Regions from separate parts of the Homo sapiens genome. Here regions 1 and 2 are each linked to region 3. Evidence: fine-mapped expression QTL. A gene starts in region 3. Each other region holds a variant in brackets. All regions are shown on one strand. Distances are from middle to middle.

What was found. PIP is the estimated chance that this variant, and not a neighbour inherited with it, causes the effect. A credible set is the group of variants that fine-mapping cannot tell apart.
Region 1: its variant is the best candidate, but not a certain one, in a credible set for the expression of IPO11 in skeletal muscle (GTEx, PIP 0.61).
Region 2: its variant is the best candidate, but not a certain one, in a credible set for the expression of IPO11 in whole blood (TOPMed, PIP 0.52).

What each region holds. Positions count from the first base shown.
Region 1 is chr5:62,368,818-62,373,059 of GRCh38, reverse strand. KIF2A (kinesin family member 2A) reads right to left here. Exons shown (of 21, transcript NM_001098511.3): 17 at 509-622. Among named protein-coding and RNA genes, the nearest start is that of DIMT1, 33 kb to the left of the region's middle. The variant G/C (reference allele first, on the strand shown) is at 2,544.
Region 2 is chr5:62,688,187-62,692,428 of GRCh38, reverse strand. No RefSeq gene overlaps it. Among named protein-coding and RNA genes, the nearest start is that of LRRC70, 110 kb to the right of the region's middle. The variant G/A (reference allele first, on the strand shown) is at 2,435.
Region 3 is chr5:62,410,185-62,414,426 of GRCh38, reverse strand. It overlaps IPO11 (importin 11), which reads right to left and starts at 1,664. Exons shown (of 30, transcript NM_016338.5): 1 at 1,498-1,664. RefSeq lists a silencer at 1,174-1,223 and an enhancer at 1,554-1,743.

The DNA.
Region 1 (4,242 bases), 41 kb after region 3:
TTCACCACTTGGCCAGGTTGGTCTGGAATTCTCAACCTCAGGTGATCCACCAGCCTCCGCCTCCCAAAGTGCTGGGATTACAGGTGTGAGCCACCACGCCCGGCCAAAAGAGGGTAAACTTTCTATGTCAAGAGGCTCCTTGCAGACAAGGAAACTTATAAGATCATACAGCATAAAGGCAATCTCTTCATTTTAAGCAAGATAATTTATCTTTTAACAATTCGATGGTAAGTATGGTAATTTTAATGGTAAGTATGCAAAAGTGACATCATCCTTAAAAATATGAGGGGGAAATAGGAAGCCTGAATTCTAAATCAACATTTTAAAGCAAACAAATTAATAAAAGATGTAAGAATGCAGATCATGCAGTACAACCACCACCTGCCAAATGAAATGACAATGAAAACTAAAATGGCTCAGGACAAAAATAGCAAATGAAATGTTTATACAAAGCACAATTCAAAAGAAAGTATACAAATAAACATCTTATGTATAGAATGAAGTAGACCTGGTAACTGAAGGAGAAAAGTCGTCATATTCATAAGAAGGAGAGAGATCAGGGCGACTGCCACTACCCTGTGAGAAGGGAATGTCTGATGGACTAATTCCAAACTCCTTTACTCTGCAGCACCAAAAGAGCAACAAATTAAAAGAAAATGCTCTTGAAAGACAGCAATGCACATTGCACATTTTCATTTAGTATTCACTTTTGTTTAGAAAAGGATATTGATATTGTTGTGACAATGTATTTAGAATATTATTTTACAAATAACAAATTTTAAGAGGTTTTTGAACATCTTTGTTCTATTGATCCCCTGCTCTATAGTCCTAAGTCTTTCCTTTCTGGTGTATTTTCCTCTTTTCTCATAATCCTTCCTAGAAGTTTAACTAAGTCACTTAAATCTGAAATGCCCCCCTAACTACATGACCACTCAATCTAATTTCTTCATGTAGTCAGTACCATGACTATTTGTTTATTAGCATTCATGAGTCTTCAACATTTTTGCAGTCTTTTCCAAACAGGACACAAGGGAATTAAGTCCTAATGTCTTAAGGCATCCATTGTTTGTAATGAATTAACTTCTTTCCTATGCATCCAGAATGGCATTAGCTGTGAAATGTCCTTGGTATAACTGAGAAAATATTCACTCTATTTTCAGTGGTTGGTGATTCAGATGAAGAACTCTGGTTGAGAACAGCCTTTAGCAATGAAATTTAAATTGCTTTTGCTAACATCTTCAATAGTTATATTTAACCAAATTATGACTTTTCTCACCCCATCTATGTAATTCCTTATGTCTCTTTTGGGCCAACCCTATTTCATACCCATATAAAATATTTATTAAGTACCTCCTGTATGTCAGGTATTAGGATTAGTCATTTTTAGGCATTATATTATTTAGTCCTTCAACCATCTTTGATTTTATAGATGAGAAAAATGACTCAGAAATAAAGTATCTTCTCTAAGGTCATTCACTGAGAATGTGGCATAACTGAGGTTAAAACCTAGCCCTGAGTACAAAGCCTATGTTATTTAAACACTTCAATATAATAACCATATTCTCTGATTTTCTTGTCATTTCTCTTAGGTTGAACTAAATGAAATTCCCTTCTTTTTAGGTCAAAAACAAGTATCAATATCTTCATATAAATCAAACTAATATGTTTCCTCTACTAACAGTCTTTCTTTGACCTATTGGTTAATATCTACTGTCAAAGGTTCAATATTGGATTCATCTGCCTTTTATCCTTAAAGTTTATTTACCACACATGCTGAAAAATCTAAATATGTTTTTTTTCCTTTTTGAGATAAGGTCTCACCATATCACCCAGGCTATACTGCAGTGGCTCAGTCATGGCTCATTGCAGCCTTGACCTCCTGCTCAAGTGATCCTCCCACCTCAGCTGGGACTATCACTGGTGTGCCACCACCCCCGGCTAATTTTTTATTTTTTTGTAGAGATGAGGTCTCGTTAGGTTGCTCAGGCTGGTCTCAAACTCCTGGACTCAAGTGATCCTCCTGCCTCGGCCTCCCAAAGTACTGGGATTACAAGCATGAGCTACAGCGTCTGGCCTGAAAAATCTAAATTTCTAATACAAACAACTATTTTCACTCCCACCCCATTTCTTATCTAAATCTTTTAATTTAGACACCCTATTAGCTTCATCCACACATTTTTTCCTCTATCCAAAGCCCTCTTGCCCAAGCCAGACTATACTACATACAAGAATCACATTCTTCAAACATGTTACTAAAAACTCCTAATCACTCTAATCACTCTTCTACCCAAGACCCAATCACTCTAACCTCTTCCATTACCCAAAGATTAAGTATCTCTGCTTCAGGATAGAGGCCACTGTCTATTTCTCATATATCCTATAAATTTTTTTTCCTTGAGACAACCATTCCTTCCACTCTGAAAGTTTTCCCTTGTACTCTCCTCTAAAATATCTCTAATTGTCTGGCTGGGTGCAGTGGCTTATGCTGTAATCCCAGTACTTTCAGAGGCTGAGGCGGGCAGATCACTTAAGGTCAGGAGTTC[G/C]AGACCAGCCTGGCCAACATGGTGAAACTCCATCTCTACTAAAAAATACAAAAAAATTAGCTGGGCGTGGTGACGGGCGCCTGTAATCCCAGCTACTCGGGAGGCTGAGGCAGGAGAATCGCTTGAACCCCGGAGTCAGAGGCTGCAGTGAGCTGAGATTGTGCCACTGCACTCCAGCCTGGGTGACATAGCAAGACTCCATCTTAAATAAATAAATAAATAAATAAAGTATCTCTAATTGTCATCTGATGAACTAGACTTGTCAACTTAATCACTTAGCAGCAATGTGTACTGTTACAAACTATCCCACAATTCCCATATAAAACTTTCAAAGTATATGATTCTAATATAAGGATATGAAAAAACATTGCTTTCACATCTGTCTAACCGAATTTTTTAGACAGAACTGCTCACTAAAGTAGCAATAGGGATAACTATTCCTATTAATATATCCCAGGTACTGTGCTAAACATTTTACACAGATCACTTCTTTTAGTCCTCAAAAACAATCCTTTAAGATGGACATGGTCATTAGCTGTCTATTCTAAAGATGAGGAAATAAAGACAGAGAGAGGTTAAGTAACTTTCCCGAGGCTTTGATACCATTAAGTAGTAAGGAAGTTATTAAACCTATTTTGTCCTGAGAAATAACACTTCAATCACTAAGCTATGTCTTAAATACAAAAAAAGTTTAAACACTTAAGACAGAAATAGTTTCCTAAAAATATGAAATTTTAATGTAATGCCACCTACCCACCACCTCAAAGTATTGGCCTAAAAAAAATAAGGCAGATTTAGTATAAAGGAGGAATGAATTATTTTTGGCTGTTAAAAAAAAAAATTACTGACTCTTAAGGTCACAAAACATTGGTATGAGTATCAAGGAAGGTTAAAAATCTTTATTCCTAGAGATTTGGAAATAAAATTGAAACAATTATGTGTCTGATATGGTTAGGCTTTCTGTCCCCACTCAAATCTCATCTTAAATTATAATTTCCATAATCTCCAAGTGTCAAGGGAGAGACCACGTGGAGGTAACTGAATCATGGGGGCAACTTCCTCCAGGCTGTTCTCGTGATAGTGAGTTCTCACAAGATCTAATGGTTTTATAGGAGGCTCTTCCCCAGTTTGCTTGGCACTTCTCCTTCCTGCTGCCTGGTGAAGGTGCCTTGCTTCCCCTTCACCTTCCACCATGACTGTAAGTTTCCTGAAGCCTCTGTGGCCATGCTGAACTGTGAGTCAATTAAACCTTCATAAATTACCCAGTCTCGGGTATTCCTTTGTAGCAGTGTGAGAACCGATTAATACAGTGTCCCAGATGGTTAGTCATGTTGCAAGTGAGTTACATGATATAACAGTAGGTTAAAACATTTTACTTTGACCTAAGTGAACTAGAGGAACAGCTAGATATAGCATTTTCACAATATTAGGGAGGAATCTTTTGTAGTTTCAAATCTTAAGAAACAGAGGGGTTTTGTTTGTTTTAATTCTACAACATGGCAAGAATCTATTACACTAGGCTGTTCCTCATCTTTCTCAAGAATTATTCTGAAATAAGAAACATTTTAAATTAATGATAAAAATCCCACATATCAAAAACGTTAATTACCAAGATCAATTAAAACTAACACAATAAGGATTTGCAGCTAGGAGCTCATAATTCAAACTTTAAAGGGATTAAATTTACAAAATATAATAG
Region 2 (4,242 bases), 280 kb before region 3:
ACCAAGCAGCAGAGCCAGGGGGCTCATGAAAAGAATAATCCCACAGCTCAGCATTAGCCTCAAAGCAGCAGATATGGGGACCTCTGTAACTGGCACCCTGGACTAGAAGCAAATATCTGCAATTGCCTAAAACATATAAGTGTGTGTGTGTGTGTGTCTGTGTATCAAGAACACCCTTTGCAGAGGGTAAAGAATAGGAACAAAACTGTCTTGAAAATGCTGTGTCATTAACACAGAGGTAAGAATGGAAAGCAGGCCAGGTGCAGTGGCTCACACCTGTAATCCCAACACTTTGGGAGGCTGAGGCATTTGAGGCCAGCATGGGCAACACGGCGAAACCCCATCTCTACAAAAAATACAAAAAAATACATGGTGGTGTGCACCTGTAGTCCCAGCTACTCAGAAGGCTGAGATGGGAGGACACTTAAGCCCAAGAGGCAGAGGTTGCAGCAAGCCAAGATCATGCCACTATATTCCGTCCAGCCTGACAGAGCTAGACCCTGTCTCAAAAAAAAAAAAAAAAAAAAAAAAAAAAAGAATGGAAAACAAACATATACAATGCAACCTCAACTGGCAGGATGAAACCCCAGGTTCTTGTGTTAACTCCGCTGGCTGGGCAGCCCAGGATGGGTCACTTTCACTCTCCATCTCCACACTGGTACGGGAAGAAATTGGGCTGGGAGACAGATCACTCAGGTTCTTCCAGTTCTAACTCTCTGTGACTCCTTGATTCTAGTTTGCGCTACCAGGCAAGGTTCTATGTAAAAATAGAGGTTCCTCTTCAAAGACTTTCCTCTCCATTTAATTAGGAATAAATAATAACTTCTCTTAGAAGCAAAATTTATTCAAAAACCTGTGCTAACATTCTTAAATATCTGCTAGTCGTAATAAGAAAACCAATATACTTTATGTTCTTAGCTCCCACAATTTAGCCTAAATATTTGCCCTGGCATGCTTATACTGGTCCAAGCAGGCATTAGTTCATAGCCTGTTTCTCTTCCTTATTTAAAGGTGTTTTTACCTTTCTCAGCATTCCACAAGTTACTTCCTCCTTCCTTTTTTCTCCTCTAGCTTTGCCTCTTTTAATAAGTTCTAAGTTGCTAGCCAATCGGGACAAATACAGAATGTGAGGTCCTGTTCCAGCCAATGGAAACCGGACACAGCAGAAGGGTGGACGCGTCAGGTTATAAATGACCCTGTCTCCTTTGTTCGGGGTACTCTCGTGGCAAAACTGCTGCCAAGTGTACCCTTTCTGCAGAAAATAAAAATGGCCTTGCTGAATAAATTTAAGTTCAAGTACTATTTCTTTACGGCACCGGGGAACAAGCATTTCAAACTGTTATATGTCCACTGGCATGACCTCCAAAATGACCTCTAATTTTGGCCTTCTAAAATCAGTAGGACAGCTTTTTATCTCAGAGGGTAGTCACAGTAGTTGGGCATTCCTATGTGTCAGGGCCACCTGGCAAAAATTCCAATGCAGTCTCCTTCAGGGGCAGGGGCCTGCTGTGTCCTCTCCCCTAGCACTGGACTCAGTAAGGCAGGAGGGCAAGACCCATCCAGATGCTGTCCAGGATGAGGGTGAACAAAGGGGTCAACCTCTGTCTCTTCCAATGACCACAAACCAAAGGGACTCAGAGTACCAAAAATTTTACTAACATAAATAGGAAACTTGGGGACTGAGCACACCAGAGCCACTTGGAGGTAAGAGGGCCACTCTGCATACACTTTCTGTTAGTCAAACCAAATTAAACAGCAGGAGCTCCCCAGCACTCCCCACCATGACCTGTCTACTCGAAAGTCCCGGAGCTTTGTGAAGGAGGGCGGCCTTTAAGAATGGTCAGAGGCTCTCTCACCCTCTGCTGGGGGAAGAGTGGGGCAGGCAAACCCGGCATAATCCTTAGAGAGGTCAGGAGAGATTTCTTTCTAAGGCCAGGGTCTCCTGTGGCCACTTTAGGAGTCAGGACCCGGGGCCAGGAAGACGGCAGTGGGTTTGACTTGCATACATTAGGCTCCTGCTAACTGGCAGTTTAAATAAATTGAAGTAGGACTTTAGCTTTTCCTTAGCATTTCTGCCTGAGTTTCAGCTGTTTCACCAAAAGGTGAAACAGCTATTGTGCAAAAACTTTTCTAATAAAAGCCCTGAGTCATCTGGTCTACTTTAAACTTCAGAGAAGAGTTAGTGGCTTTTACAGTTCTTTTCCATTTTGAGGAACACTCCTGAACTTTGTTTTTTATCAAGAACTGAAACCCTTTCTAATCACTTCAGCATTTAGATGTTTTTAAATCTTGCTTTAAGTAGTTTCACTTTTGATTTTTTTCAGTTATGTTTACTGGGTTATGATAAAGGATACAACTTAGGAATAGTTGAGTGGAAGAGATGTGCAGGGCACGGAAGTGGGGTTGGGGCACGGAGTCCCCATGCCCTCCCGGG[G/A]CCCCCTGGCAGCACTTCCGTGTGTTCACCAAGCCAGAAGCTGCAATTGTGAAAAAATATTTCCCCATGATTTTCCAATAGGCTTTCACCTAATAACGCAACAGATGTGGTGTTTTATGGTTCACAACCCACTTTCCAAGGAGCTATCTCATCAGATACTCATGGAGCAGGCCCGCTACCATTGCTAAAATGCAGACTCCGCCTCTGGGAGTGTTGATGGCCACACCCAACTGGCGTGGGTTTATTTTGCCCTAAAGATACATTTTTAGGACTTCAAGTCTTTTCCTGTCTCCTGAGGAAATCCTGGGATGATTTTGCCAAAAAGTCCCACACACCAGCATTTGTTTATACCTATTTCCGGGAGTTATAGCTGGAAAAGGAAGAAATATGATCATGATCAATTTTCCTCTTGTAAAAAAATTTTTTTCTTTTTTTTTTTTTTTTTGAGGCAGGGTCTTGCTCTGTCACCCAGACTGGAGTGCAGTGGTGCAATCACGGCTCACTGCAGCCTCAACCTCCCAGACTCAAGTGATCCTCCTGCCTCAACCTCCCAAATAGTGGGGAATACAAGAACACACTACCACACCCAGCTAATTATTTTTATTTTTTGTAAAGATGGGGTCTCACTATGTTGCTCAGGCTGGTCTCAAACTCCTGGGCTTGTGCAATCCTCCTGTCTCAACCTCCCAAAGTGCTGGGATTACAGGTGCTGGAATTACAGTTTCCCAAAGTGTTAGGATTACCATGCCCAGCCTGTTTCCCTTTTAACACACTCAAATAAATCTGATGCAAACTCATTATAATGGCATGGACTTGACTAGCCAAACATATAACTATGATTGTTTTCTTAAGAAGGATTTTTAAAAAGCACAAGTCAACAGAACTTCTTGAAACTTCTGTATTGTAGGTTGGTTGGGCCAGCTCTCAACCAAACTACCAAGCATCAATACCCCTCTTCAGTCTTCTACTATCTTTCAACTCTCATCTCTTCAAATAGTGGTGGTCCCTCCTGTCTACTGAGCCCTTTAAGCAGGCATTCCTATATTTCATCAAAACCTAAAAAAGAAGTGGAATAATCTGTCATTGGCTTGAAATAAAATGTCTTGGTGTGAACACGTCACTTACCTTCTTAACTCTCCCAAGTATATTTTATATTTTAAACTTATTTCTTATATTGAATGAAAGGAAGGCTTTTCTGTTGTTAATAAAATGTTAGGCATTGGGAGGCAGATGGCATATTTGGAGGGGACAGGAGAAGAGGCAAAAAGCTTCCCGGGGTCCAGGCATGGTGGCTCACACCTGAAATCCCAGCACTTTGGGAAGCCAAGGTGGGAGGATCACTTGAGTCCAGGAGTTTGAGACCAGCCTGGGCAACATAGCAAGATGTCTCTACAAAAATTAAAAATTAAAAAATTAGCTGGTCATGGTGGCATGCATGTGTAGTCCCAGCTACTCAGGAGGCTGAGGCAGGAGGATCATTTGAGCCCAGGAGTTTGAGGTTATAGTGAGCTATGATTGCACCACTGCACTCCAGCCCTCAGCCTGGGTGACAGAACAAGACCCTTTTATTTTCTAAAAGGAAAAAAAAAAAGCAAGCTTCCCAGGAACCCAGGAAGTGTTACTTGTCCAAATAATACCTTAGTGTATACATTCTGACCCAAAGTTTTAAATGAAACTTAAAAAGTGCAATGTGAAGTTGTGTCAGTTAAGATTACTGACTTCAGTTTTCTGTTCTTCAAATGTTGCCTTTGTCTGAATGCCTCTGCAGAAAGGCTTGTTGAGAAGATGCATATACATATGTATGTAGA
Region 3 (4,242 bases):
AAGTGAGGTTACATACATACACACACACAGGTACAAATATATAACACAAAGGTCAAAATCCAAATAATCAAACATTACCTTACCCAAAATTTGAATATTTTTATTGCTGAGAAAAAAAAATTTTGTTTCTGGAAAAATCTTCAGTGTATTTTAATAGCCACATGCCTACAAGGATCATGCTGCATTCTGGTTTGATTCCAAATGCAAATATATTCAAACATCACAAAATCTAAAAATTGTTCTATTAATGATCAGATAATCTTTACATATTTGTTTAAAACCTCTAACATTACCACAGCCAAATGTGTTTGTGGTGAAAATTCTCTTTGGCCTTAGAAGTTCAACTAGGGCGGAGACCACCCTCCTACCCTGAGACTATAATATATGGCCACAAGCCACTACTATAATTAATTGTTTCTACTATACCCTGTGCTAGGTTACTGCAGAAACAGAGAAAATACCAGTCCCATCATAACCAAAAGGGAAAATGTTTCTACTTTCACCGAAATTTTCCTCAGTGATGAAAGATGTAATATGTGTCATGCAATGGATGTCTCCTATAGAAGAGTCACCCTGCCCTTAATCTGAAGCTCCTCTACTGAACAGAGAAGTTTGAAATAACATGAAAATGGAGGAAGAAAATTCCTATCCCAGGAGGGGGAAAAGCATTATGGCTACAAACTATTCTTCCTTCTGAAGAATAACCGAAATCTGAAGGGCACTACCGCGCTACAACTGAGCTCGTTTAAATTATGGAGGGGAGGAGGTATGTCAACTGCAACCTTGGCACTAGTAGGTAATTTACCAGTCCTTGCTATTTAGTCAAATCACTTTCAGATAGTACTTCTCTCATTCACCAACATGTCACAAAATAATAAAGAAAAAATGACACACGTAATAAGCAAAAGTAGTTTTGCTGAATCACAAATACCCCCAAATATAAATCTACAGGAGTCGCTGAGCTTGAGAATTGGCGGCCATACCTCTCCATGAAGCTCCTCTCTATAAACGGACAACTACCTTCACTTTTTCATTAAAAGCATGTAAGGGTCTAATGTTTAAAGCTATCACACTATTGCTATTAGCAACAAGGTCGCGTGCGCAGTAACAATGCACAACGGTCTTATACTCGAGATAACCACTTTATCTCAAAATTTGCACCACCTATCCCCCAAGGGCAAATGCATCACCCAGGTCCGCAACCGCGGTCACGATGGGTACACTCGCCTCTGCTCAGCCTAGCATACGGTCCCTCCCACCCCGCACCCTGATTGCTCCACTACCATGCTGCCCACTCCCGGGCTGCCTCGGCCAGCCCCCAGTTCCCCGGGTTCCTAAGGTTGCGCAAACAGCCAAGTCTGCAGGCCGCCCTTGCCTCGCTACCGTTATCCCTCATCTCCTGGTAGCCCCACTTTCCTCCCGCCTCTCGGGACTCGGGTGCCCAACCCACTCCCTTCCACTCCCGCGCGCTCGGTGGCTCTCGGGCCGGGGCCTCACCGTTTGGTTCGGTCGGGAATTGCCCGGCCCTCCCGCTCCCACTTCCCAACACGAAGTGGCGTCGGTTGGTCCCTCTCCCCACGCTGCCAGACCCCACGCCGCCGCCTACTGATGCCGAAAGCGGCTTCTAGGAACACGCCATGTTTGGCGTCGCAGCTCCAAACGACGCGGACGCGCGAAAACTACGTCACAGGAGACCAGCGCGCATGCGACCGGCAGAGAGAGAAGGCGATAGGCGAACGGCGGGAAGGGGAAGGAGGGGCTTTGTCTTTGAACCAAAAGGCGCGGGGTATCCAAATCAGTTGTGTGCGCTTGCGCAGTGCGCTTGCGCAGTATAAAGAGCCAGGAGTCCGGACTAGCCGGATCTGTCACCATGGAAACCATAGGTCTGGTTTCTCCGACTCCCAGGGAGCTCAATTGTTTCCTGCGTTGATTGAAGCTTCAATCAGAACCATTTCACGCTTTATATTCTAGATATCAATAGCGGATCCGTCACAGCAGAGAAGAGTTATTTAAAGAATCTTACTCCCATCAGTCCACCCTCCCTCCCGCAAATATTTATTTTTTAAGTTACCCAAATTGCTTGGCGCTTACTCCTGAGTAATAGCAAGAGTGGAAAAATGTAAAAGGACATAAATCCAGTTCTGCTTGCCTCTGCTAAAAGCTAGCATAGTCACCTAAATTTTCTTATCCTTAAAAAGAGAACTTACTCAGGCGCAGTGGCGCGCGCCTGTAGTCCCAGCTACTCCAGATATGGAGGCAGGAGGATCACTTGAGCCCAGGAATTCGAAGCCAACCTGGGACATATAGAGAGTTCACACACACACACACACACACACACACACACCCATTTCAAAAATAATAAGGGGTGGGCACAGTAGCTCACACCTGTAATCCCGGCACTTTGGGAGGCTGAGGCGGCCGGACCACGAAGTCCGAAGTTCGAGACCAGCCTGGCCAACATGATGAAACCCTGTCTCTACTAAAAATACAGTAATTAGCCTGGCGCGGTGGCGGGCGCCTGTAATCCCAGCTACTCAGGAGGCTGAGGCAGGGGAATCGCTTGAACCCTGGAGGCAGAGGTTGCAGTGAGCCAAGATTGCTCCACTGCACTCCAGCCTGGGCAACAGAGCGAGACTCCGTCTCAAAATAAATAAACAAATAAATAAATAAATAAATAAATAGACTCCGTCTCAAAATAAATAAATTAATTAAAAATACACACCAACTATATATTTCTTAAAAATAATAATAGTAAGGCCAGGCACAGTGGCTCACGCCTGTAATCCCAGCACTTTGGGAGGCCGAGGCGGGCAGATCACCTTAGGTCAGGAGTTCGAGACCAGCTTGACCAACAAGGAGAAACCCCATCTCTACTAAAAATATAAAAAATTAGCTGGGCATGATGGTGCACCCCTGTAATCCCAGCTACTCGGGAGGCTGAGGTAGGAGAATCGCTTGAACCCTGGGGGCAAAGGTTGCAGTGAGGCGAGATCGCGCCATTGCACTCCAGCCTGGGCAATAAGAGCAAAACTCCGTCTCAAAATAATAATAATAATAGTAAAAGAAGTTGTAAGGAAATAGAGTGTTCAAAAATATTAATAATAGAAAACCTTTATTGCTAATTTAGAATATTCCAGGTACAGTTTTAAGATCTTTATGGGAATTATCTATTTTAATCCTCAGAACAACCCTTATGAGGTAGGTATTTTCTTTATGTCCACTTCACAGATGAAGAAACTGAAGCACAGAGAAGTCAAGTAGCCCACCTAACGTCAAACAGCTAGTAAAAGGCCATGTTAGGATTTGAACCAAGCTCTGCATTCCAAGAATGTCGATCACACAAGGGCTGTTTTTTAAAGTAAAAAGATAAAATTACCTAAACAACCACCAATGACACAAATGATTAAATCACAATACATCCATACATAATAAAATACAAATTGACCATTTAAAATTATGTTGAGGTCGGGCACAGTGGCTCACACCTGTAATCACAGCACTTTGGGAGACCAAGACGGACAGGTCACCTGAGGTCAGGAGTTCAAGACCAGCTTGGCCAACATGGTGAAACCCTGTCTCTACTGAAACTACAAAAATTAGCCTGGCGTGGTGGCATGCGCTTGTAATCCCAGCTACTCAGGAGACTGAGACAGAAGAATCGCTTGAGGCCGGGAGGCGGAGGTTGCAGTGAGCCGAGTTCGCACCACTGCACTCCAGCCTAAGCGACAGAGCGAGACTCCATCTCAAGAAAAAATAAATAGGCCGGGCGCAGTGTCTCATGCCTGTAATTCCAGCACTTTGGGAGGCCGGGGCATGTGGATTGCTGGAGGTCAGGAGAGCGAGACCAGCCTGGCCAACATGGTGAAACCCTATCTCTACTAAAAATACAGAAATTTAGCTGGGCTTTGTGGCAGGCACCTGTAATCCCAGCTACTCGGGAGGCTGAGGCAGGAGAATTGCTGGAACCCAGGAGGCAGAGGTTGCAGTGAGCCGAGATCGTGCCACTGCACTCCAGCCTGGGCGGCAGAGGGAGACTCTGTCTCAAAAAAATATATATTAATTAATTAATTAAACAAAATAAAATTATCTTGAAGTGTATTTGTTGACATGTTTACACATGCACAATGCATTGTGAAAAAAGAGGGTTGCAAAACATTATGTTCAGAATGTCCCACTTTTGGAAATAAATAAATGCCAAAATGCTAGGAGGGTTTATCACTAGTTGGATGGGTATTGTGACCA